Linked DNA regions of Homo sapiens. The protein of the gene in region 1 interacts with the protein of each later gene in a pairwise test. Each region holds a gene or a part of one and is shown in the gene's direction. Other genes may lie near its edges.

The links.
Region 2: the proteins of DLST (region 1) and TPX2 interact in binary tests that used the Homo sapiens proteins (3 or more experiments, as listed by UniProt).
Region 3: the proteins of DLST (region 1) and RASSF2 interact in binary tests that used the Homo sapiens proteins (3 or more experiments, as listed by UniProt).
Region 4: the proteins of DLST (region 1) and MAVS interact in binary tests that used the Homo sapiens proteins (3 or more experiments, as listed by UniProt).
Region 5: the proteins of DLST (region 1) and RBM17 interact in binary tests that used the Homo sapiens proteins (3 or more experiments, as listed by UniProt).
Region 6: the proteins of DLST (region 1) and DRC7 interact in binary tests that used the Homo sapiens proteins (3 or more experiments, as listed by UniProt).
Region 7: the proteins of DLST (region 1) and PIAS4 interact in binary tests that used the Homo sapiens proteins (3 or more experiments, as listed by UniProt).

The regions. Positions count from the first base shown.
Region 1 is NC_000014.9:74,891,916-74,895,415, forward strand, and holds part of DLST (dihydrolipoyllysine-residue succinyltransferase component of 2-oxoglutarate dehydrogenase complex, mitochondrial isoform 1 precursor), read left to right. Parts: exon of another isoform or gene 1-143; intron 144-918; coding exon 919-1,071; intron 1,072-1,432; coding exon 1,433-1,509; intron 1,510-2,396; coding exon 2,397-2,494; intron 2,495-3,500. UniProt on the Homo sapiens protein: Dihydrolipoamide succinyltransferase (E2) component of the 2-oxoglutarate dehydrogenase complex. The 2-oxoglutarate dehydrogenase complex catalyzes the overall conversion of 2-oxoglutarate to succinyl-CoA and CO(2).
Region 2 is NC_000020.11:31,798,290-31,802,300, forward strand, and holds the end of TPX2 (targeting protein for Xklp2), read left to right. Parts: intron 1-75; coding exon 76-263; intron 264-2,680; coding exon 2,681-2,791; 3' UTR 2,792-3,511; downstream 3,512-4,011. UniProt on the Homo sapiens protein: Spindle assembly factor required for normal assembly of mitotic spindles. Required for normal assembly of microtubules during apoptosis. Required for chromatin and/or kinetochore dependent microtubule nucleation.
Region 3 is NC_000020.11:4,817,109-4,820,608, reverse strand, and holds part of RASSF2 (ras association domain-containing protein 2), read left to right. Parts: intron 1-3,500. UniProt on the Homo sapiens protein: Potential tumor suppressor. Acts as a KRAS-specific effector protein. May promote apoptosis and cell cycle arrest. Stabilizes STK3/MST2 by protecting it from proteasomal degradation.
Region 4 is NC_000020.11:3,849,834-3,853,333, forward strand, and holds part of MAVS (mitochondrial antiviral-signaling protein), read left to right. Parts: intron 1-3,500.
Region 5 is NC_000010.11:6,095,534-6,099,033, forward strand, and holds part of RBM17 (splicing factor 45), read left to right. Parts: intron 1-1,514; 5' UTR 1,515-1,532; coding exon 1,533-1,655; intron 1,656-3,500. UniProt on the Homo sapiens protein: Splice factor that binds to the single-stranded 3'AG at the exon/intron border and promotes its utilization in the second catalytic step. Involved in the regulation of alternative splicing and the utilization of cryptic splice sites.
Region 6 is NC_000016.10:57,708,306-57,711,805, forward strand, and holds part of DRC7 (dynein regulatory complex subunit 7), read left to right. Parts: intron 1-3,500. UniProt on the Homo sapiens protein: Component of the nexin-dynein regulatory complex (N-DRC) a key regulator of ciliary/flagellar motility which maintains the alignment and integrity of the distal axoneme and regulates microtubule sliding in motile axonemes.
Region 7 is NC_000019.10:4,024,736-4,028,235, forward strand, and holds part of PIAS4 (E3 SUMO-protein ligase PIAS4), read left to right. Parts: intron 1-3,410; coding exon 3,411-3,452; exon of another isoform or gene 3,453-3,454; coding exon of another isoform or gene 3,455-3,462; intron 3,463-3,500.

The DNA.
Region 1 (3,500 bases):
CTCCTGTTGCAGAAGTTTGTCTTAGCACTAACCCTGGATATAATGTCCAGATGGGTGAAAAACAGAAACAAACATTTCATTTAAAGTTGTGAGATTATTACTTGGCCACTTCAGTGATTTATGAGTCATCCTGGATGAAGTGCTTTCTTAAGCCTAAGTCAACCCTCGATGACTATTTTATTTTTTGAGATGGAGTTTCACTCTGTCGCCAGGCTGGAGTGCAGTGGCCTGATCTTGATTCACTACAACCTCCGCCTCCGGAGTTCAAGTGATTCTCCTGCCTCAGCCTGCCGAGTAGCTGGGACTATGGGCACATGCCACCACGCCCAGCTAATTTTTGTATTTTTGGTAGGGACGGGCTTTCACCATGTTGGCCAGGATGGTTTTGATCTGTTGACCTTGTGATCCGCCTGCCTTGGCCTCCCAAGGGGAGTAATCCCTTGGCCTGTAATCCTGGGATTACAGGCGTGAGCAACTGCACCCAGCCTATTTTTTAATAGTATTCTTGCATATATAATGTTAAAATAGAGGATGAAGAGTATCAGTAATTAGAAATATGTTTATGTATGCATTTCAATATTTTAAATTGCCTAGGTGTTTTTTTTTTTCCTTGGAAGTTTACATTTTCTTGGGCTTGATAGGTGCTTTGAAAGTACTTGCTGAATTTATTCAGTGGAAACCTGTGAAATTGGGAAGGGAGCTAAGTTGAGCCAGTTATCTGATGGACATTTAGGGACCCTGAGGACTAGAGAATAGTGCCTTATGTCATTGTGTGTGTGTCTCATAGTGCTTTGCATATTGCTGATACCCAGTAGACATTCGTTACTTGATTGGAGCTAGAGTTTTTGCCACTAAATTTTGCTTGGTTGCTTCTCATTTCAGACAGTGCCAGTGGCATATACTTTTCTTGTTTTTCAGCTGCTCCTGCTAAGGCCAAGCCGGCTGAAGCTCCTGCTGCTGCAGCCCCAAAAGCAGAACCTACAGCAGCGGCAGTTCCTCCCCCTGCAGCACCCATACCCACTCAGATGCCACCGGTGCCCTCGCCCTCACAGCCTCCTTCTGGCAAACCTGGTAGGCTTCCAACTCCCACATGTCATGTGGGAGAACATCTCGTCTAATATGTTCCTTCAAAGGGTAAACTCTAGACTGATGATGGTTCTGAACAGGCCAGGTTGGCTGCTTTGTAGAAAGAATTCTAGACTTTGTATCCAAAGGCCTGCTTTGCATCTCAGCTTTCTGTTACTAGCTGTGTGTCTTTAGGCTAGTCACTTAATTTATCTGAACAGATTGTTCATCTGTGAAGTTGGAGTGATACTAATATACCTCAGAATATCTTGAAGATTAAGTAACAGTACATATGAAAGCACTGGCACAAACTCAGCAGATGTTTCTTTCCTTGTCTGATGCAGCTTTATCCTCTTTTCATTTTCAGTGTCTGCAGTAAAACCCACTGTTGCCCCACCACTAGCTGAGCCAGGAGCTGGCAAAGGTCTGCGTTCAGAACATCGGGTAAGCCTCTGAGGACCACTTTCAGGAAAGAGGCAGGGGGCAGTGTTGAGATTAGTGGAGTATGGGTGTGGTGATGCCTACCTTTGAATGCCTGGCAGCTCATTCCCTCAACCTTGATAAAGGGAGTTTAGGATATAACTTCTTCATAGTCACATAACCATCAAATGATAGGACTAGAACCTGAGGTCTTCTGAACACTTGTTCAGTGGTTTTCCTACTATATTATGCTACCAGTGAAAGCCTTGGGTAAGTTAAATATTTGTAGGGGTGGTAGCTTAGTAACTCACCCCCGTCCTCCCACGATGTCACACGCTTCAGAGAGGTGGTTTAGTGAGCTCTATTCCTATACTTCTGGGATACTTAGCTGTAGCTAAGGGATAATACTCAGTAGCAATAGCTGTCAGGTGCAGACATAAAGCCTCAAGGAAGTATGGTCAGGATTGTGGTTCCTCTGCCTGAGAATACTTCCTAAAAATATGATAGCCTCGAAAGTTTGTTGCTCATGAGGTTCTGTTCCACAAATAGCTATTCTTATGCAAATCTTTATCAACAGAAAGTGCCCTTTTTCTTATGATTCTTATGTTGGCTAGACTACACTACACTACATTCTTTTATAAATGGGTTTTGGTTTTTAAATCACTGTTTCTGAGCCTTCATTCTTGGTCAAGCTTTAGGCACATCTGAGTGAGTAGTTTTGGCCTGTGTTTGCATGTTTTTGCTTGGAGGAGAAAGGGCCACCACAGGAAAGGGAAGCCTGGAGCTCGTGTACTTAGATACTGTAGTCCTTGGCCATCTACTCGTGGCAAGCCGTGTTCTTTCTGACTACACGGGGAATGCTTGACCCAGAGAGATCAGATTGTCAATGCTTGTTCCACTCTTACTTTCAGGAGAAAATGAACAGGATGCGGCAGCGCATTGCTCAGCGTCTGAAGGAGGCCCAGAATACATGTGCAATGCTGACAACTTTTAATGAGATTGACATGAGGTAGTGTCTCTAGTCCCTCTTATCCCCTAGGCCCCTTTTTCTTAGAGAACACGAACTTGCCCCACTCCTTATCTAGTGCTGATTCTAAAACTAACTTGTCAGGGAAGAGGTATTTGTTTATTGTTTTTTGTTTGTTTGTTTTTGTTTTTGTTTTTTGAGATGGAGTCTCGCTGTCTCCCAGGCTGGAGTGCAGTGGCATGATCTCGGCTCACTGCAAGCTCCGCCTCCCGGGTTCACGCCATTCTCCTGCCTCAGCCTCCAGAGTAGCTGGGAATACAGGCGCCCCCCACCACGCCTGGCTAATTTTTTGTATTTTTTTAGTGGAGACGGGGTTTCACCGTGTTAGCCAGGATGGTCTCGATCTCCTGACCTCGTGATCTGCCCTTCTCGGCCTCCCAAAGTGCTGGGATTACAGGCGTGAGCCACCGCGCCTGGCCTGTTTATTGTTAACTTTCACAGAGTGAGCCGCTGGCTTCTTCTCTAATTGGCTTTCCTAATACTATGCCTGCCTCCTCCATGACCTTAACCTTAGCCTTGGCTAGGTGTAGTGGCTCACACCTGTAATCCTGGCACTTTGGGAGGCCGAGGCAGGCGGATTGCTTGAGTCCAGGAGTTCAAGACCAGCTGGGTAACAAGGCGAAACCCCACCTCTACAAAAAATACAAAAATTAGCCAGGTGTGGTGGTGCACATCTGTAGCCCCAGCTACTTGGGGGGCTGAGATGGGAGGATTGTTTGACCCCGTCACTTACATATTTTCCTAAGTGATTCAGAATCGAGTGGATGAAAAGGCAAAGATAGGCTGGGCTTGTCTTTCATTTTACCCAGCTCTGACAGTGAAATGGAAAACAAGTTGTGTTTTTAAATAACCTTAGAATGTTAACCAAAGGTACTAATTCACTAGGTATGCCCATTTCTGTAGTGAGCTAATTGTTGACTTACCTGTTTTCTTCAAGATTTCAATGTGTTCAAGTATCAGCACTGTCAGGAAGAGAAATTTGACAAAC
Region 2 (4,011 bases), on another chromosome or scaffold:
CTTGCTCATTCCAGGGGGCGTAGGTTTATGCAAGTCCTGCTTGTGCACCAATATTTTTTCTGTTTCTGTACTTAGAGGGCCTTTCTGGTTCTCTAGTTCAGGAACCTTTTCAGCTGGCTACTGAGAAGAGAGCCAAAGAGCGGCAGGAGCTGGAGAAGAGAATGGCTGAGGTAGAAGCCCAGAAAGCCCAGCAGTTGGAGGAGGCCAGACTACAGGAGGAAGAGCAGAAAAAAGAGGAGCTGGCCAGGCTACGGAGAGAACTGGTAACTGGGAGCATGAGCACTGACGAACACAAACATGCCTCTGTTTTATTTTACCTGTACCTTACCTTGTACCAGACAGGATCTAAGGTAGCCCGCAAGGCTGTACCAAAGACAATGAGTGAAAGGGGGAATTGCACAAACTGAGGGTGGTGATGAAGTTGAGTTGTGAATGAAGCTAACGATGTGTACATTGTGATCTAAGTAGGAGCTGTAATTTTGGCCCTTTTTAGGAACCAACCTGTCAGTTACAAAACTCGCAGTGTTCATGAGACATAAGACAGTTGTTCAAAAAATACATTTATCCCTTTGATAGTGAATTTTTAGACAGAATTTCTTCCGGAAGTTTTCATAAGGAGGACAACATGTGGTATAACCATGATGCCTTTCCTAGGACTGTTTTTTATTTATTTGTTTATTTTATTTATGTAACTTATTATTTCCTCTGGGGTTAAGAAGCACCACTGAGTTTTGTAATTAGACAAGAATACATAGCGAAGGACATGGGAATTAAATGGCAACTGTATTTTTGTTTTAATACTGAGCCCAAACTCCTTGGAGTTACAGTGTTCGTCGCTCCAGGTAATCCTCTACTAACATAATTATTTAGATGTTGGTTATCCAAAAAGAAACCTGAACTCCACATTAAGGACCAATCTGCTAGGAGGGCAGCAAGTTGTGTTAACTGTGTTAATGAAGAAGCAGACAGTTTTAGATGGAACTTCGTATGATAAATAAAAAAAGAAAGGGTCATGGGGAGATGTTGGTAAAAGGTTACTTAGTTACAGTTAGATGGGAGGAGTAAATTTCAAGAGATCTATCATATAACAAGGTGACTGTAGTTAATGATATATTGTATTCTTGAAAACTGTAAAGAAAGTGGATGTTATGTGCTCACACTACAATAAGTGGATGTTATGTGCTCACACTACAATGTTAATTAGCATCTTGCTAATTAACAAATGCATTATCTCACATAGTAACCATTCCATAATGTATGTCTACTTTAAAACATCAGCGGTACACAATAAAAATATACAGTGTTATCTGTCAATTAAAAAGAAAGAAGGCCAGGAATGGTGGCTCACACCTGTAATCCCAGCACTATGGGAGGCCCAGGTGGGTGGATCACTTGAGGTCAGGAGTTGGAGACCAGCCTGGCCAAAATGGCGAAACTCTGTCTCTACTAAAAATACAAAAATTAGCCGGGCATGGTGGCACGCACCTGTAATCCCAGCTACTCGGGAGGCTGAGGCAGGAGAATTGCTTGAACCTGGGAGGCCCAGGTTGCAGTGAGCCGATTGTGCCACTGCAGTCCAGCCTGGGGGTGACAGAGCGAGACTGTCTCAAAAAAAAAAAAAAAAAAAAAAAAGAAGTGTAAGTTGTTGAGGTTTTGTCTAAAAGTGCTATACTACAGCTGGATGTGGCAGCTCACACCTGTAATCCTCACACTTTGGGAGGCCAAGGTGGGAGGATTGCGTGAGCCCAGGAGTTCAAGAAAAGCGTGGGCAACATAGCAAAGTCCCATCTCTATTTTAAATAAATAAATAAAATGCTAGACTAGCAGTTGAAACAGCTATTGGCAGCTATTGGCATAGGTGATTATGCCCATAGGAAGGTTCCACGGACACACTATTTAGGAGACCAGCCTCTTGGTAAAATCTAGACTACCATTTGCTGAGTGAATGAGAAAATAGTATAATCCCCACTCTATATACACTCATACAATCAGCCTTTTTTCCCGGCCTCAACTTTGATTTTTCTTTAGCATTTGGTACCTGCCTCTTGTGTTTGTCCCCATTATAGAACTGCTTCTTGCAGCAATTCTCAACATAACTGATGGCAACATTGTAAAGCACAATTCAGTCAATGCTGGTTAACTCTCTACTAATCTGGCTTGATTTAGGATTGATTTTAGACTACCCTAAAGGATGGATGGGACCATGCCTTCTTTAGCCACCCTTCCTGGTATGGTTGTTGTGTTTTGTTTTTGCTTTTTCCCCAGGATTCAGGCTTTTGGTGAATATTTATAGTCAGTAAACTTAAGACTGTACTCTGGGAAATTCTTAGCTTGTAACTTCTCTGCTATACTTGAGTACAGCCCTATTATACCCTAGTAAATCACACAGGACATAGGTTTGGCATTCTTTAGTGAAAGCTGAGGGACTTGAGGAGACTGTGGCCTAAAGGAAAGCTGGGGGACCCAATAGAGACCTGAATAGAAACCCTTTTGGGCTCCAAAGCACATACACTTTTCCATCATACCGTGTTGCCCCCCAGGCCCCACTCCCCACACCTGAAACTAGTGACTGGGACCTGTAAAACTCTACAAACATTTTCTCAAAAAGAAAAAAATAAAAGCAATTATAAGCGTAGTTCTCTGACATCCCTCTCACTGGTAACTTTTCCTTACTTTGCAGGTGCATAAGGCAAATCCAATACGCAAGTACCAGGGTCTGGAGATAAAGTCAAGTGACCAGCCTCTGACTGTGCCTGTATCTCCCAAATTCTCCACTCGATTCCACTGCTAAACTCAGCTGTGAGCTGCGGATACCGCCCGGCAATGGGACCTGCTCTTAACCTCAAACCTAGGACCGTCTTGCTTTGTCATTGGGCATGGAGAGAACCCATTTCTCCAGACTTTTACCTACCCGTGCCTGAGAAAGCATACTTGACAACTGTGGACTCCAGTTTTGTTGAGAATTGTTTTCTTACATTACTAAGGCTAATAATGAGATGTAACTCATGAATGTCTCGATTAGACTCCATGTAGTTACTTCCTTTAAACCATCAGCCGGCCTTTTATATGGGTCTTCACTCTGACTAGAATTTAGTCTCTGTGTCAGCACAGTGTAATCTCTATTGCTATTGCCCCTTACGACTCTCACCCTCTCCCCACTTTTTTTAAAAATTTTAACCAGAAAATAAAGATAGTTAAATCCTAAGATAGAGATTAAGTCATGGTTTAAATGAGGAACAATCAGTAAATCAGATTCTGTCCTCTTCTCTGCATACCGTGAATTTATAGTTAAGGATCCCTTTGCTGTGAGGGTAGAAAACCTCACCAACTGCACCAGTGAGGAAGAAGACTGCGTGGATTCATGGGGAGCCTCACAGCAGCCACGCAGCAGGCTCTGGGTGGGGCTGCCGTTAAGGCACGTTCTTTCCTTACTGGTGCTGATAACAACAGGGAACCGTGCAGTGTGCATTTTAAGACCTGGCCTGGAATAAATACGTTTTGTCTTTCCCTCCCTGATTGTGTTATTTGATGTTTTTAAATCTGTTAAGCCCCTTTGGAGGTCACATCTTATTGGGAAATGGGTAGTTTGAGAGGTGGGTCCAGGAACTTTTTTTTTTTGAGATGGAGTCTCGCTCTGTCGCCCAGGCTGGAGTGCAGTGGTGCGATCTCTTCTCACTGTAAGCTCTGCCTCCTGGGTTCACGCCATTCTCCTGCCTCAGCCTCCCGAGTAGCTGGGATTACAGGCGCCCGCCATCATTCCCGGCTAATTATTTTTTTTGTATTTTAAGTAGAGACAGGGTTTCACCGTGTTAGCCAGGATGGTCTCGATCTCCTGACCTTGTGATCCACCCGCCTCGGCCTCCCAAAGTGCTGGGATTACAGGCGTGAGCCACCATGCCCGGCCCAGGACAGTACTTTGTAATTTTTTTCTGTCTTATGTCAGAATATCTCCATATTCTGTTAACTCTCTCTCAGTAACCACTTAATCATGTATGTTATGCCTTCACACAG
Region 3 (3,500 bases), on another chromosome or scaffold:
GTTGTTTACTGTAATGACACACTGTCCTATTTAAACACTTCCCTGTCTCCAAGAAGAAGTTTTATTTTTTATTTATATTTATTATTATTATTATTTTTTGACATAGGGTCTCTCTCTGTCGCCCAGGCTGGAGTGCAGTGGTGCAATCATGGCTCATGCAGCCTCAACCTCCTGGGCCCAAGCGATCCTCCCACCTCAGCCTCTTGAGGAGCTGAGACCCCAGGCATATGCCACCACACCCAGCTAAATTTTTATTTTTATTTTTTTATAGAGATGAAGTCTCGCTATGTTATCCAGGCTGGTCTCAAACACCTGGCCTCAAGCCATCCTCCTGCCTCAGCCTCCCAAAGTGCTAGGATTATAGGTATGAGCCACTGTGCCTGGCCCAGAAGAATGTATAAATGTCCTCAAGGTGGAGTGAGCTCCCACAGGTCTCACGGCTGGTTTCATTTATTTGGCCTGCTTGTTGGTTACTGTGGACCACATGGCCGTGTGAGGCGGGGGTTGGTGAATGGGGCAGGAGGCACCAGGGAAGGAGGGTGGCACATCCTCTGACTTGGGCTATGCAGCCAGTGGGTCATTTTTTATCACTTCTGGGATGGCAGACTCTAAAGTCTGTCATCACAGGTTGATGCTGCTGTTTGCGGTGACAGCTTGGGGCTGGGGAACTGCTGCTGCTCAAGGCAGCTGTGGCAGAACCAGAGAGGGACCCTCTCATCCATTCCTGTGGAACGGGCAAAATGACTTCCAAGGCCCTTTCCTGTTCCTTCAATTGGTGAAAATTGGCAGAGAAATACCTGTGCTTTCTTTGAACATGTCGACCCAAAGTGATTTGGCAAAGTAGATTTCCTTCATCAGCACGGTGCTTTAACCGTAGTTGGCATTCAGTGAAGTGTGATTAACTGCTCATTTTTATAAATGTCATGAAAGAGTATTGGATTTGGAGTTTGAATTGCATCTTACCATTTCCTAGCTGTGGGATACTGAATAATGTAATAGATGCTGTCAGTCTCCTGCCCATGTTCCACTGGTCTCAACCAATGACTGATGGGAGAAGGTGTGCAAATACTCCAGCTTCCTCGCCTCTCTTTTGAGATAAGTTTGGGGCATGTTCTGTGCTGTCTCTAAGAATTCCCTTGCAGGACCGAATCTCAATTGCTCATAGTGTTAGCTTGCTCACTTCCTCATCTCAAGTACATTTCAAGTACAAAGGGAGTGTACTTTGTACTTTGTACACTCCCTTTGTACTTGAACTTGAATTCTTGTTTCACGATCTACTTTTGGGTGAAACCAACCTAAGACAGGCTTTAACTTATAGTTAAAAGTCATTAAAAGTCTCAGTTTCAGGCTGGGCGCAGTGGCTCATGCCTGTAATCCCAGCACTTTGGGAGGCCGAGGTGGGTGGATCACCTGAGGTCAGGAGTTCAAGACCAGCCTGACCAACATGGTGAAACCCCGTCTCTACTGAAAATACGAAAATTATCCGGGCATGGTGGCGGGCGCCTGTAATCCCACCTACTCAGGAGCCTGAGGCAGGAGAATCGCTTGAACCTGGAAGGCGGAGGTTGCAGTGAGCTGAGATCTCGCCATTGTGCTCCAGCCTTGGCAACAAGAACAAAACTTCCTCTCAAAAAAAAGAAAGAAAAAAGAAAAGAAAAGACTCAGTTTCCACAACTGTAAGATGGGAATTATAATAAGTATCTCACAGCAATATTGTGAGGGTCAAATGGGCTATCATGTGCTTAGCCTGGCACATAGCAAGCATGTAGAAAACCATTTGCTGGCTAGAAGCAGGCTATGATGGATTTCAGAGTGTGTATTATGGTGGAACATAGAGAGTTACAGTGCTTTGGAGAGAGGCTGCTCTTAGGTTAGGTGAGGAAACTGAGGTCACCTGCACATGGTTTGTATTCCTAGGTTGTGACCAGCGACGTGCTGGTGAATATTTAACACCCGGCTCTTGGTAGGGGCTTTGGGGGAAGCCCTGCTTTGTGGTGTTTTCCAGTTTATATGATATAAATAAATATTCCCACTATGGCTGACTTCACTCTACCAACCTGGTATCAGTGAACACTCAGTTGGGAAGAGTTGTGCGCCATTGGCACTTGGGAGCCAGTAGGATCTGGCCCCAGCACACATCGGGCCATGACTAAGTCAGCATGTGACCCCAGTGATTTTAATTTCCAATTCTGTACATGCGGAGGGGAGGATAAGATTTGTATTAGGCATCCAAGTCATGGGATATGTTCAAGCGCTGCCCCAAACCGGTTGAACCTCACCTGCATGCGAGACACTTCTGGGGTGCATTTAGTGATTATGATTATTATTGTGTTTTTTTTTTTGAGTTGGAGTCTCACTCTGTTGCCTAGGCTGGAATGCAGTGGCACGATCTTGGCTCACTACAACCTCTACCTCCCAAGTTCAAGCGATTCTCCTGCCTCAGCCTCCCAAGTAGCTGGGACTACAGGTGCATGCCACCATGCCCAGCTAATTTTTGTATTTTTAGTAGATATGGGGTTTCACCATGTTGGCCAGGCTGGTCTTGAACTCCTGACCTCAAGTGATCCACCTGTCTCAGCCTCCCAAAATGCTGGGATTACAGGCATGAGCCACTGCGTCTGGCTAATGATTATTGAAATGTTTATGCTGTGAGACTCTGGTTCTCAGTTTCCCCATCTCCAAGGCAAGGGATTAAATGATTCCATATGTCCCTTCTAACCCTTGATCTCTTTCAGAAGAGTCATTGCCTTGTCCTTCTGTCTATACAAGAACAAAACCTTTAATGACAAAAAACCTTTCCTGTGGACTACATGTGTGCCACCCACCATGAGACACCCAGCACTGGCCCCTCCTAGAGTCCTTCCTCCTGGGAATTCAGTGGACATTAACCCAGTATAATCCTGCCTGTCTTGTATATCAGTGTCACCTCAGGACTCCGGCATGGTGTGTCTCCAGAGGAGGCCTGGAGAGGTGGGGAGGGAGGGACTGGTTTTTTTTGGAACGGATGGTCCCTTCCTTTCTGAATCACTATGCAAAGTTATAGACACCCAAGTAGAGTCTGCTCATGGTTTGCATTCCTAGGTTGTGACCAGTGACGTCCTGGTAAATGTTTAACACCTGGCTGTTTTTGGAAGGAGGTTTGGAGAAAAGTCTGTGTGGAGAAAGAGAACTTTCTATGACAGAATTCATCATCTTGGTGTAATTTTACTCTTAATGCTCTGTTGACAACCCTCCCAAACAAGTCCCTGACTCAGCAGTTCCACCCCTAGGAATTCTGCCCCTAGGGATGTAATTGGATAAATGCAGAAAAGTATGTGTATGGGGATGTCCCTCGCAGCATTATTTATAATAATGATAACACTCCATAGTGACAAATGGAGACCAACAGTCATACATTAGTTAACCATGGCATGTCTATACTTTGGAATACCAAGTGGCTACAAAAACATAGGCTGCAGGTGTGTAGCTATTAACGTGGAAGAATATGATATATATGTATT
Region 4 (3,500 bases), on another chromosome or scaffold:
GATGTGGCATAGACCTTGTCTCTTTTATTCCCTGCAGCACTCCCTGATGGGGGCGGCAGAAAAGTAACGAGCAAATACATCTATAACTGCAAATTGTGGTAACTCCTACATAAACAACTGGCAGCAATTGCTTATATTTGAGGCACTTAAAAATTTTTAAGCTGGCTGGGCGCGGTGGCTCATGCCTGTAATCCCAGCACTTTGGGAGGCCGAGGCGGGCAGATCACGAGGTCAGGAGATCGAGACCATCCTGGCTAACACGGTGAAACCTGTCTCTACTAAAAATACAAAAAATTAGCCGAGCGTGGTAGCAGGCGCCTGTAGTCCCAGCTACTTGGGAGGCTGAGGCAGGAGAATGGTGTGAACCCGGGAGGCGGAGCTTGCAGTGAGCCGAGATTGCACCACTGCACTCCAGCCTGGGTGAAGGAGCGAGACTGTCTCAAAAAAAAAAAAAAAAAAAAAAAAAGAAATTTTTTTAAGCTGCTGGGCGCGGTGGCTCACGCCTGTAAATCTCAGCACTTTGGGAGGCCGAGGTGAGCGGATCACCTGAGGTCGGGAGTTCGAGACCGGAACATGGTGAAACCCTGTCTCTACTAAAAATACAAAATTAGCGGGGCGTGGTGGCTCATGCCTGTAATCCCAGCTACTTGGGAGGCTGAGGCAGGAGAATCGCTTGAACCCAGGAGGCAGAGGTTGCAGTGAGCCGAGATCGCGCCATTGTACTCCAGCCTGGGCAAAAAGAGTGAACTCCATTTCAAAAAAAAAAAAAAAGGCCAGGCGCAGTGGCTCACGCCTGTAATCCCAGCACTTTGGGAGGCCGAGGCAGGCGGATCACGAGTTCAGGAGATTGAGACCATCCTGGCTAACACGGTGAAACCCTATCTCTACTAAAAATACAAAAAATTAGCCGGGTGTGGTGGCGGGCGCCTGTGGTCCCAGCTACTCGGGAGGCTGAGGCAGGAGAATGGTGTGAACCCAGGAGGTGGAGCTTGCAGTGAGCCGAGATTGCACCACAGCACTCCAGCTTTGGTGACAGAGCGAAACTCCGTCTCAAAAAAAAAAAAAAAAAAAATTTAAGCTTAGAGGCCGGCCACAGTGGCTCAGCACTGTGCAGGCCAAGGCAAGAGGATCACTTGAGGTCAAGAGTTCGAGACCAGCCTGGCCAACATGGTGAAACCCTGTCTCTACTAAAAAATACAAAAATTGGCCAGGCGCGTTGGCTGGCGCCTGTAATCCTAGCAACTTGGGAGACCAAGGCAGGCAGATCACCTGGGGTCAGGAGTTCAGGACCGGCCTGGCCAACATTAAAACATATAAAACCCCGTCTCTACTAAAAATATAAAAATTATCCAGGCATGGTGGCGTGTACCCGTAATCCCAGCTACTCGGGAGGCTGAGGTAGGAGAATTGCTTAAACCCGAGAAGCAGAGGTTGCAGTGAACCGAGATTACGCCACTGCACTCCAGCCTGGGCAACAGAGCGAGACTCTTTCTCAAAAACAACAACAACAACAAACAAACAAATTAGCCAGGCATGATGGTGGGCACGTGTAATCCCAGCTACTCGGGAGGCTGAGGCAGGAGAATTGCTTGAATGTGGGAGATGGAGGCTGCAGTGAGCCGAGATCACACCACTGCACTCCAGCCTGGGCGACAGGGAGACTCTGTCTCAAAAAAAAAAAAAAAAAAAAAAGTTTATAAGGCTGAATTACCGTACTGTCAAAACAAGCTGCTATCTGAGCCGTTTTAAGGGTGAGGAAGTCTGGAAACTGATAACTTGCCCAGGACACACAGTGAGTTCAAGGCATGGAACTCAGTCTCCTATCTTAAGAATGTATGTGGGCCGGGCATGGTGGCTCACGCCTGTAATCCCAGCGCTTTGGGAGGCCAAGGCAGGCAGATCATCTGAGGTCAGGAGTTCAAGACCAGCCTGACCAACATGGAGAAACCCTGTCTCTACTAAAAATACAAAATTAACCAGGTGTGGTGGTGCATGTCTGTAATTCCAGCTACTCAGGAGGCTGAGGCAGAAGAATCACTTGAACCCGGAAGGCAGAGGTTGCGATGAGCCGAGATTGTGCCATTGTACTCCAGCCTGGGCAACAAGAGTCTGGAACTCTGTCTCAAAAAAGAAAAAAAGAATGTATGTGTAGCAGGCTTTTTTTTTTTTTTTTTCCCCCGAGACGGAATCTGGCTCTGTCGCCCAGGCTGGAGTGCAGTGGCGCAATCTTGGCTCACTGCAAGCTCCGCCTCCCAGGTTCACGCCATTCTCCTGCCTCAGCCTCCCGAGTAGCTGGGACTACAGGCACCCGCCAGTACGCCGGGCTAATTTTTTGTATTTTTAGTAGAGACGGGGTTTCACCGTGTTAGCCAGGATGGTCTTGATCTCCTGACCTCGTGATCCACCCGCCTCGGCCTCCCAAAGTGCTGGGATTACAGGCGTGAGCCACCGTGCCCGGCCTATGTGTAGCAGGCTTTAATGGTGGGCCTGCAGCCATGTCATGGAAAGAAGCTGACCTGAAGATCTCAGTTCTTTCTTCTTCTACTAACTAGCAAGCATACCTCAGTTTCTTCTTTAAAGCGGGATGATCCGATTATTATCATGTTGGGGTTCACTTTTTATTTTTTCAGTGTGTCCCAAAGCAGCAGCACGTTTAGGTATAGCCCTCTTGCTATCAGCTTGAGGGCCTTAGAGCCAGGAAGGGAGCCAGGACATTTATAGGCACAGAAACTAGGGTCACATACAGATCCCCCCACCGCATGTGCTAGGGGTACATGCAGACCTTCCCAGTGCTGACCAACCTGCAGAGAAGAAATGGGCCCTAGGTATTCTGGATCTGATTCTTTTTGGTCTTCAATTATTTTTATTTTTATTTTTTTAGAGACAGGGTCTCGCTGTGTTGCCCAGGCTGGCCTCGAACAGCTGGGCTCAAGCGATCCTCCTGCCCTAGCTTCTTGAGTAGCTGGTGGTCATCAATTCATTTTTAGCAAATTCTGCAGAATTTTTTTTTTTTTTTTTTTTTTTGAGACGGAGTCTCACTCTGCCGCCCAGGCTGGAGTGCAGTGGCGTGATCTCGGCTCACTACAACCTCCGCCTCTTGGGTTCAAGCAATTCTCTGTCTCAGCTTCCTGAATAGCTGGGACTGCAGGCGCCCGCCACCATGCTTGGCTAATTTTTTTGTATTTTCAGTAGAGACGGGGTTTCACCATCTTGGCCAAGTTGGTATTGAACTCCTGACCTCGTGATCCATCCGCCTCGGCCTCCCAACGTGCTGGGGTTACAGGCGTGAGCCACCGCGCCCGGGTTCTGCAGGAATTTTGGAGAGACTCAGGCAGTAATAAAATAGGATGTTTACAGAAATTAAAGATGGCGGCCGGGCGCGGTGGCTCACGCCTGTAATCCCAGCACTTTGGGAGGCCGAGGCGGGCGCATCACGAGGTCAGTAAATCGAGACCATCCTGGCTAACCCCGTGAAACCCCGTCTCTACTAAAATACAAAA
Region 5 (3,500 bases), on another chromosome or scaffold:
TTCATTTGAGCAGTCGGCCATCAATACCCCTGGACAGTCTGCTTTCCCTGCTTCTCTACGGCCTTGCGGGGACCTTTCATTTAAAAATCAAAATGGAGAGGTTTTAGTTAATTTGAGGGTTCACGTATGAAGGAATGGAAGAAACTAAAAAGTGGTGACAGTTTTCTGGGGTGCTGACTTCAGGCAGGGAGTTACTGTACTTAAGACCAGGGCAGTTCTTCTGAGGGAACAGAAGTTGGTGTGCACTCCGTCCCCCACTCCACACAGTGTGGTACCAACATCAGCGAAGGTGTTGGGGCGGCAGGGTCTTAGAATCCCTGTAATGGGGGAGCTGAGAAGTAAGAGTACCTTCAAGAGAAATGCTTGCCGAATCAGACCTAAGGAGGGTATGTGTTAAATATTTTCCTCCTCTCCTGAGCCACAGAACACAAGCAAATTAGGCTTTTCAATAACACGGTTTCCATGGGAAAATGCTTTATGGGCCCCCTGGGAACTGACAGACTTATTTGTCCATAAACTGGGAACTACTGTGCTAAGCATTTACTTGCAATTTGTGGGTTTCTGTTTAAATTAAGTTCTCTTTCTGTCTGTGAGATTGATTTCTTATTTGAAGAAGTAAGCTATGTTGGTGGGTTTCAGAATGTTGATTTTTTTTTTAAAAAGTGGCAGTTGGGGTTCACTGGCGAGGGCTCTGGAGTTGGCCTGGCTGGGTTGGAAGGGGCTTCCGCTGTGGCCTTGGGCAGATTGATTCCCTAAACCCCAGCATCCATGTCTGTGCAGTGCTGGGCTTTCATGGGACCTGCTGCCGATGCTGCATTGCATGTCATGCTTTGCGCCTGCTGACTCGGTTTTTGTTTCCACGTGTTCCTCTGTTCTGCACGGAAGCTGTGTGTTGCTCGTTCACATGCAGATTGTTGATTGTCTCTTTGTAATCACTATCATTAAAGATGACAGATTTCCACTTGGTGTGATATGAGGAAATCAGAGTATTTAAGATGTAACCAGTCTACTCCCCCCTTGATAATTGTAATTGACAAAATCACATCTAAGAGATCATTTCTGTCATTTTTTTCCCTAGGAGTACGTTTAAATTTTTTCTTTATAAAAGGGTAGCTAATTGTGCTACATCAACCTGCTAATTGGTGTTTTTGTAAAGCTTCTACTTTTTGGCACTGACATAAATAGAATTTTTTAAAAATTGGATATATGTAATTAATAATGTTCCAATTCTTACCTCATTATGTGCCCTAGCATTGAAGGATTTCACTCATGGATCACTTGACTGCATGATCTTATAGATGGAAAAATGAATTTTAGAGGCTTATTTTAAAAATAATCCATGGTCTAGCTTCATGTATCAGGAATAGCCCTACATTAATGGTACCAGGAGCCTGGGCCTCTGTTGCTGAAAGGTCCTGGACCTTTTACCTCTAAAATTTCATGATACTTATTTTAACATGAAAAGCCTTTATTGAATTGTGCATTCTTTAATCCCCACCCCTTTTGCCTTTCAGCATTAAACTGAAGAAAAGATGTCCCTGTACGATGACCTAGGAGTGGAGACCAGTGACTCAAAAACAGAAGGCTGGTCCAAAAACTTCAAACTTCTGCAGTCTCAGCTTCAGGTGAAGAAGGCAGCTCTCACTCAGGCAAAGGTAAAGACAAGCCCAGAGCATGAGAGCAGAGGCCTCCAGAGTGGGTTCCTCATTAGGATGACAAGGAATTTGGTTTCAGCTTGCTCTTCTGCCTTTGTATTGGGTAAATGGTGTTAAGCATTTGTAGGGGGAGAGGAATGAGGAGTTTAAGGCCACTTTGCTACTCCTGGCTCCTGGGAATAGGAACATTTCGTGGGGTAGGAATGAAGAAAAACAGTACTCTGCGGGGGCTGGGCGCAGTGGCTCACGCCTGTAATCCCAGCATTTTGGGAGGCCAAGGCAGGCAGATCACGAGGTCAGGAGATCCAGACCATCCTGGCTAACAAGGTGAAACACCGCGGGCGCAGTGGTGGGCACCTGTACTGCCAGCTACTCGGGAGGCTGAGGCAGGAGAATGGCGTGAACCCGGGAGGCAGAGCTTGCAGTGAGCCGAGATCGCGCCACTGCGCTCCAGCCTGAGCGACAGAGCAAGACTCCGATTCAAAAACAAACAAACAAACAAACAAAAAAACAGTACTCTGAACCAGCAGTGACACTGCTTTTCAAACTTAAGTAGTGGAGGTCTAAGATTGAGTGAGAACTTGTTTAAGGTGCTAATTTTGTAGCCTTACTCCTGATATTCTGGTAAACTGTAGTTCAGGCTGGAGCCCCAGGAGTGGGAATTTTTAAGTAGCATTCCTACTGGTTTGGTGGAGGTAGTTTGGAAGCAGCACTTTGGGAAGAAGCTCCACAGAATACCTAAGCTGCTGCGTGCAACTTATTGAGGGCTCAGGTTGATTGTGAAGGCGTCAGGCATAGGTAGTCTGGATGCTGATTGCTTTTGTTTCTGTTGTGTACATGTTGGGTATTGGCAATGTCCTTGAAATAACATGTAAAACATTAAAAACCTAGTTGTCGACTGGATATTTGCCATTAAAATGTAGGCATGAGAATGGTATTATGGTTTGTTTACTACTTTAGAGATCTTTATGTTCTAGAGTATGCATTCGTAATGGAGGCTATATCCCCCCAAACAGAGCGAATATTGGTCTTTTTGGGGGTGAAAAAACCTTGCTCGTGTTGTGCACAGTGTATCTGTGGTGTGAAAATTTCATGTGCGGGAGAAAATTTAGTCAAAGGCTCCTTGCTGGGGAGGCAGTAATTAAAGTTGAGAAAAAGTACTTTAGAGATGTGTACTGAAATATTTACCGATAAGATGATGTCATTTTTGGGATTTACTTCTAAACAATTCAGTCCCGGGCAGGGGAGGGAGGGAAGAACAGAACTACCCATGAGTTGATAATTGTTGAAACTGGATGTGGATAGTAGAGACTTAAGAATTAATATTAATCTCTAATTTCATGTTTGAAAATTTCCGTAATACACAGGTTTTTTGTTTTTTTTTTTTTTTTTTTTTTTTTTTTTTGAGACGTAGTCTCACTTTGTAGCCCAGGCTGGAGCGCAGTGGCATGATCTCAGCTCACTGCAAGCTCCGCCTCCCAGGTTCACGCCATTCTCCTGTCTCAGCCTCCTGAGTAACTGGGACTACAGGCGCCCACCACTGCGCCTGCGGTGTTTCACCTTGTAAGCCAGGATGGTCTCGATTTCCTGACCTCGTGATCCGCCTGCCTTGGTCTCCCAAAGTGCTGGGATTACAGGCGTGAGCCACCGTGTCCGGCCAATACACAGGTTTTTTTTCTTAAAAGTTCTACTCATTTTTCTTTTCCCTTTACCACATCAATAGATACTTACATGGAAGTGCTTACATTTGATTGTTCAGTATTGTAGAGAGGTTTTTTTGTGTTTTTAAAATTCATCATTACCAAATTTAGATTTTTTGGATGCCAGTATTTTGTGTTTTTTTTA
Region 6 (3,500 bases), on another chromosome or scaffold:
CTAACGACATCCATTAGTTTCATCTGTTTTTGGAGTTTACATCAGTTGAATCACACAGTGATTCAATACTCTTACTCTTGGATTCCTTCACTCATTATGTTTATGAAATTCATTGTGGTTTTTTGTGTGGTTTGTTCATTTTCATTTTTTATTACTTTCCATTATTTGAATACACCAGAACTTATTTGTCCTTTCTACAGTTGCACATTGAGACTGTGTCCAGTTTGGGACTATTTTGAATAATGCCGCCATGAATATTTGTATACATATATTTCAGTGAACACATACACACATTTCTGTTGGGTAACTACTGAGGGGTGGAATCGCTGAGTCACAGGGTGGGCACATACTCAGTTTTAGTAGATACTGCCCGATTTCTCAAGTGATTGCATCCATTTACACTCCCACCAGCAATGTATGAGGGTTCTCAGAGCTCCATCCACATCCTTGCCAATACTGGATACTTTCTTTTCCATTTTAGCTATTGTAGTGGACATGTAATGGTATTGCACTGTGGTTTTATTTAATGCAATTGATTTTTGGCTGAGTGTGGGGGCTCACACCTGTAATCCCAGCACTTTGGGAGGCTGAGGAGGGTGGATCATTTGAAGTCAGGAATTCAAGACCAGCCTGGCCAACATGGTGAAACCCCGTCTCTACTAAAAATACAAAAAATAGCCAAGTGTGGTGGTGGGCACCTGTAATCCCAGCTACTTGGGAGGCTGAGGCAGAAGAATTGCTTGAATCTGGGAGGCGGAGGTTGTAGTGAGCCTATATTGCGTCACTGCACTCCAGCCTGGGCGACAAAGCAAGACTCTGTCTCAAAAAAAAAAAAAAAAAGCAATTGCTTTTTGCAAACTGTTCACATATCCAGTAAGTTTTAAACCTGCTTATTCATTTTAAAAATTAATCTGTAAAGACTTTGGGGTTTTCTGCATATACAATCAGTTCTATAGCTGAATGATGGCCGTTTTGTTTCTTCATTTTTAATCCTTATACTTTTTCATTTCTTTTTCTTGTTTTATTTCTCTGGTTAGTACATCCAGTATAATGTCAAATTGAAGTGGGGATTCTGAACATCCTTGTCTCAGTCCTGATTCACAAGTAACGCCTTAGTATCATAACATTTCACTATTTGTGTGATGTTTATCTTGACTGTAGGGTTTTTATAGCTAGCTACCCTTTATTTAACTAAGGGATTTCTTTCTCAGTTCACTAGCAGGTTTTTTTTTAATCAAACAAAATTTGTTTATATCAAATGTTTTTTTCATCTATTAAATGATCATAATTTTTTCTTCTATTAAGTGGTAAATTAGACTGATTGTGTTCCCCCCTTTTTAAAATTGAGGTGTAATTGACATAACATAAATCCACTAAAGTGCACAAGTTAGTGGCTTTTAGTATATTTACAAGATTGTGCAACTATCACCACTATCTAATTCCAGAATTTTTTCATCACCCCAAAAGAAGATTTTTATTTTTGAGACAGGGTCTTCCTTTGTTGACCAGGCTGGAGTGCAGTGATGCAATCACGGCTCACTGCAACCTCTGGACTCAAGCAATTCTTCCACCTCAGCCTCCCGAGTAGCTGGGACTACAGACTGCAGGCATGTGCCACTATGCCCAGCTAATTTTTGTATTTTTTATAGAGACAAAAAATGGGTTTTGCAATGTTGCCCAGGTTGGTCTCAAGCAAGCCACCCACCTTGGCCTCCAAAAGTGCTGGGATTACAGGCTTGAACCACTGTCCCGGGCCCCAAAAAGAAGATTGTGGTTGAGATTATACTGGATCCATAGATCAATTGAGAGAGAACCGTTTTCTTAACAATATTGAATTTTTCACCCATGAACCATGGTATCTCTCTTCAGTTATTTAAGTCTTTTAAAATTTCTATCAGCAACATTTTGTAGGTTTCAGTGTACAGTTCTTGCACATCTTTTGTCAGATTTATTCCTAAATATTTCGCTTTTTGATGCTATGATTTTTTTAAATTTCACCTTCTGACTATTCTTTGTTAGTGAATAGAAATGCAGTTGATTTTTACATATTGATCTTCTATCCTGAAATCTTCCCAAATTCACTTATTTGCCCTAATAGCCTTTGCGTGGATTCCATCAATGTTTATACAGATAATTATGTTATCTGTGAATAAAAACAGTTTTACTTCTTTTCCCATCTGGATGCTTTTCTTCCCTTATCACACTGGCTGGAATCATCAGTAAATGTTAAACAGAAGTGATGAAAGCAAACCTGTTTATTCCTGATCTTACGGAGAGCATTTAGTCTGATACCATTAAGTATAGTATTAGCCACAGGTTTCTCTTATTGGTTCCCATTATCAAATAAAGGAAGTTTTTCTCCAGTCCTAGTTTGCTGAGAGTTTTTTCAGAAATAGATGCTAGATTTTTGTCAAATACTTTTTCTGAGTCTATTGAGATTATTATGATTTTTCTTTTTTAGTTTATCTACATGGTAAGTTACTTGGATTGATTTTGAATGTTAGACTAACCATGGTTTTCCTGGGATAAACCTCATTTCATTGTGATGGTTAAATCTTTTATATATTATTGGTGTTGAACTGAAAATTTTGCTTAGAATTTCTGTATCTTTGTTGAAGAGAGATATTGTTCTGTAGTTTTCTTAGAATATATTTGCCAGGTTTTGGTATCACAGTAATGCTGGCCTCATGGAATGAGTTGGGAAGTTTCCCTTTTCTTCAGTTTTCTGGATGAGTTTCTGTAGAATTGGCATGATTTCCTTTGTACGTTTGCTGGACTTCACAAGTGAAGCCATCTGGGGCTGGAATTTTCTTTGTGGAAGGATTTTAAGGTACAAATTCAATAGGAAGACTCAAGCTGTTTTTGAGTGAGGTTTGGTGTTTGTATCTTTCAAGAAATTTGTCCATTTCATTTGTTTTCAAATTTATTGTTATGAAAGTGTTCAAAATAGCTCCTTATTTTCCTTCTAATATGTTAAAGTCTTTAGTGACATTACCCCATTCATTCTTAATATTGGTAGTTTGTGTGTTCTCTCTTTTGCTCCTGATCAATCTGGTTAGAGGTTTATCAATTTTGTTGCTCTTGATGCAGGGGCAGGCCCCAAAATCAGGGCTTTGCCAGTGAGGATTCGTGGCTTTTTCCAGGAAAGAATTCAAGGGCAAGCTGGTGGTGTTAGAGGCAACTTTACTTGAAGTGGCAGCGTACGGCAGCAGCAGATGGACTGCTCCTTGTGGAGCAGGGCTACCCCATAGGCAGTGTGCCCAGATTGTAACCACCCAAGGGGTTCACCTTGCCAGCTGCCTAGACAGAGCTGATTCAAGACTGGGGAATTGCAATAGAGAAAGAGTAATTCACGCAGAGCAGGCTGTGTAGGAGACCAGAGTTTTGTTATTACTCAAATCAGTCTCCCAGAGCATTCGTGCATTCAGGGAGCAGAGTTTTTAGGGACAACTTGGTGGGTTGGGGGATGCCAGGGAACCAGGAGTGCTGATTGGTCAGAG
Region 7 (3,500 bases), on another chromosome or scaffold:
CAGGAAGTTAAGTCAGGTGTTTTTTTGTTTTTTTTTTTTGAGACTGAGTGTAGCTCTTGTTATCCAGGCTTCCAGGCTGGAGTGCAGTGGCGCGATTTTGGCTTCCTGCAACCTCCACCTGCTGGATTCAAGCAATTCTCCTGCCTCAGCCTCCCAAGTAGCTGGGATTACAGGCGCTCACTACCACGCCCGGCTAATCTTGTATTTTTAGTAGAGATAGGGTTTTGCCATGTTGATCAGGCTGGTCTCGAATTCCTGACTCAGGTGATTCACCCACCTCAGCCTCCCAGAATGCTGGGATTACAGGCGTGAGCCACTGCGCCTGGCGGAAGTCAGGTTTTTTCCCAGTTATATAATGAATACGGGGTTTCCCCCTCCATACCGTGGATAGTGAGGTGGGATGGTTCCCTCGGTGGGGCCGTCCTGGGCACTGCAGGCTGCTGAGCAGCATCCCTGGCCTCCACCTGCTCTGTGCCAGGAACACCCCTAACTCTGACAACCACAGATGTCCCCAGACACAGCTCGGTGTCGCCTGGGGCAGGGTCGTCCTCAGATGAGGACGGTTGAACTGTGGCAGGTGAGGGGCCAGTGTGGCTGCCCTGCGCTCTGCTCCTCCCTCAGTCTCTCCGAGGCTGTACTGCCTCCAGCTGAGACAGATTCCTGCTGGGCAGGCTAATGGTAGGTGCTGGGCCCTTAGGACAGGGGAGGCCATTTGCCCAGGTCACCCCTGAGTCCATGGCAGGGCTGGGCCGGGCGCCCCCATTTAATGCCTAGCTTCTCGTGCCCAGCCGCTTCAGACCCACCGCCCCCACCTGCTGTGGGGCCAGGTTCCTGGGGCCTCCCAGCCTGGCCCTCACACCTAGTAAGGGTTCAGATCCAGCCGAGCCAGGCTTGGCCATGGAGGCCTCTCTGCCTGGGTGACCCAAGGTGGCGACCTCGTCTTTCTCAGCCTCGTCTTCCTTGTCTATGTACCTGGGTCAGCACAGCCTCCACCTGCACTGGGTCCCTGCTGCAGAGTGCTCAGAGCCAGCCACACAGTATAAAAAAATCAGTTTGGGCTGGGCACGGTGGCTCACAACTGTAATCGCAGCCCTTTGGGAGGCCAAGGCAGGTGGATCACGAGGTCAGAAGATCGAGACCATCTTGGCTAACACAGTGAAACCCCGTCTCTACCAAACATACAAAAAAATTAGCCGGGTGTGGTGACGGGCGCCTGTAGTCCCAGCTACTCGGGAGGCTGAGGCAGGAGAATGGCGTGAACCCGGGAGGCGGAGCTTGCAGTGAGCCGAGATCCTGCCACTGCACTCCAGCCTGGGCAACAAAGGGAGACTCCGTCTCAAAAAAAAAAAAAAAAAAAAGTTTGGTTTTCTCCTCAGAAAGCTTCTGGACATTTCTTTTTCTTTTTCTTTTTTTTTTTTGAAATGAAGTCGCTCTGTCGCCAGGCTGGAGTGCAGTGGCGTGATGTCGGCTCACTGCAACTTCTGCCTCCCAGGTTCAAGCGATTCTCCTGACTCAGCCTCCCGAGTAGCTGGGACTACAGGTGCGCACCACCACGCCTGGCTAATTTTTGTATTTTTAGTAGAGACAGGGTTTCACCATGTTGGCCAAGATGATCTCAATCTCTTGACCTCGTGATCCACCCCACATCTGCCTCCCAAAGTGCTGGGATTACAGGCGTGAGCCACCCTGCCCATCCCACATTTCTTTTTCTTATGTCGAGATATGATTTGCATACCATAGAATATACAGTTTTTAAGGGTGTCATCGAGTGGGTTCTCGTGGATCAGTAGGTATCGCAGCTCCCACCACTGCCTAGTCTCAGGGCAGTCATGTCCATCCCCAGCAGCTGCCACCCTTCATCCACTGGCCCCCACGCATCCCCTCCTGTCTGTAAATGGGTCTGTCCTGGACATTTCATAGAAGTGGAATCACATACTATGTGGCTTTCGTTTATTATTATTATTTAAGACAGAATCTCACTCTGTCGCCCAGGCTGGAGTGCAGTGTCGCGATCTCAGTTCACTGCAATCTCCGCCTCCCAGGTTCAAGTGATTCTCTTGCCCCAGACTTCTGACTAGCTAGGATTACAGGCGTGCACCACCACACTCAGCTAATATTTGTATTTTTTTTGAGACAGAGTCACACTCCGAGGCCCAGGCTGGAGTGCAGTGGCACGATCTTGGCTCACTGCAAGCTCTGCCTCCTGGGTTCACGCCATTCTCCTGCCTCAGCCTCCCAAGTAGCTGGGACTACAGGCACCCGCCACCACGCCTGGCTGATTTTTTTTTTTGTATTTTTAGTAGAGACGGGGTTTCACCATGATAGCCAGGAGGGTCTCGATCTCCTGACCTTGTTATCCGCCCGCCTCGGCCTCCCAAAGTGCTGGGATTACAGGCGTGAGCCACTGCACCTGGCCTAATTTTTGTATTTTTAGTAGAGACGAGGTTTCACCATATTGCCCAGGCTTGTCTCGAACTCCTGACCTCAAGTGACCCACCCACCTCCGCCTCCCAAAGTGCCAGGGTTACTGGCGTGAGCCACCTGCCTTGTGTGTCCTTTCGTGTCTGGCGTCTCTCACTGGGTGGGACATCCTCACGGTGCACCTGTGCTGAGGCCTGGGTCTGAGCCTGGCTCCTTTCCATGGCTGGGTCGCGTCCCGTGCGTGTTGGTCCTTCGGTCTACGGAAGGACACTCAGGATGCTGCTAGTTTGTGGCTGTTGTGGTCAGTTCTGCTGTGAACATCCACGGATGCGTCTTTGGGTAGATAGACTTTTTCCTCTTCTTCTGGGGGCGTTTCTTGTTAAAGTTTATCCTCAGGTGTTACTGGTTTTTGTTTTTTTTTTTTTGGAGAGTGTTTCTCTTTGTTACCCAGGCTGGAGTGCAGTGGTGCAATCATAGCTTGCAGCCTGTGCCTCCATGGGTTCAGACGATCCCCCTGCCTCAGCCTCCAAGCAGCTGGGACCACAGGTGTGCACCACCACGCCTGGGTAATTTTTTGTGGAGACAGTTTCACCATGTTGCGCAGGCTCGTCTCAAATTCCTGGGCTCAAGAGCTCCGCCAGCCTTGACCTCCCAAACTGGGTGTTTTCTTGCCATTGTGAGCCAGCTGCTAGATTCCCGCATGCACGTTTTAGCTATGTTTCTTCGCAGGGAGAGGCACCTGGCTGCCCTCTCTGGTTCAGGGTTTTGCTGTGGATTCTGTTGCATTTTCCAGGGAGGCCAGCCCCTCTCCTGACCTCACAGCCACTCCTCTCACCCAGCCCGTACAAAAGAGTCCTGGGCCTCAGTTTCCCAGCTCTGGGGGAGGGAGCCTTGTGGTGTGGCGGTCTCCACCTTGTCGGGTGGGCTGGGGTCACGCCCTCCTCACTCAGCTCTCCTTTCCTTTCCTCTGGTTTGCTCCACACCCACAGGGAACTGCAGCCCGGAGTTAAAGCCGTGCAGGTCGTCCTGAGGTATGCCCAGGTGTGCCCGCGACCCCAGGGCTGGACCCCCAGCCACCC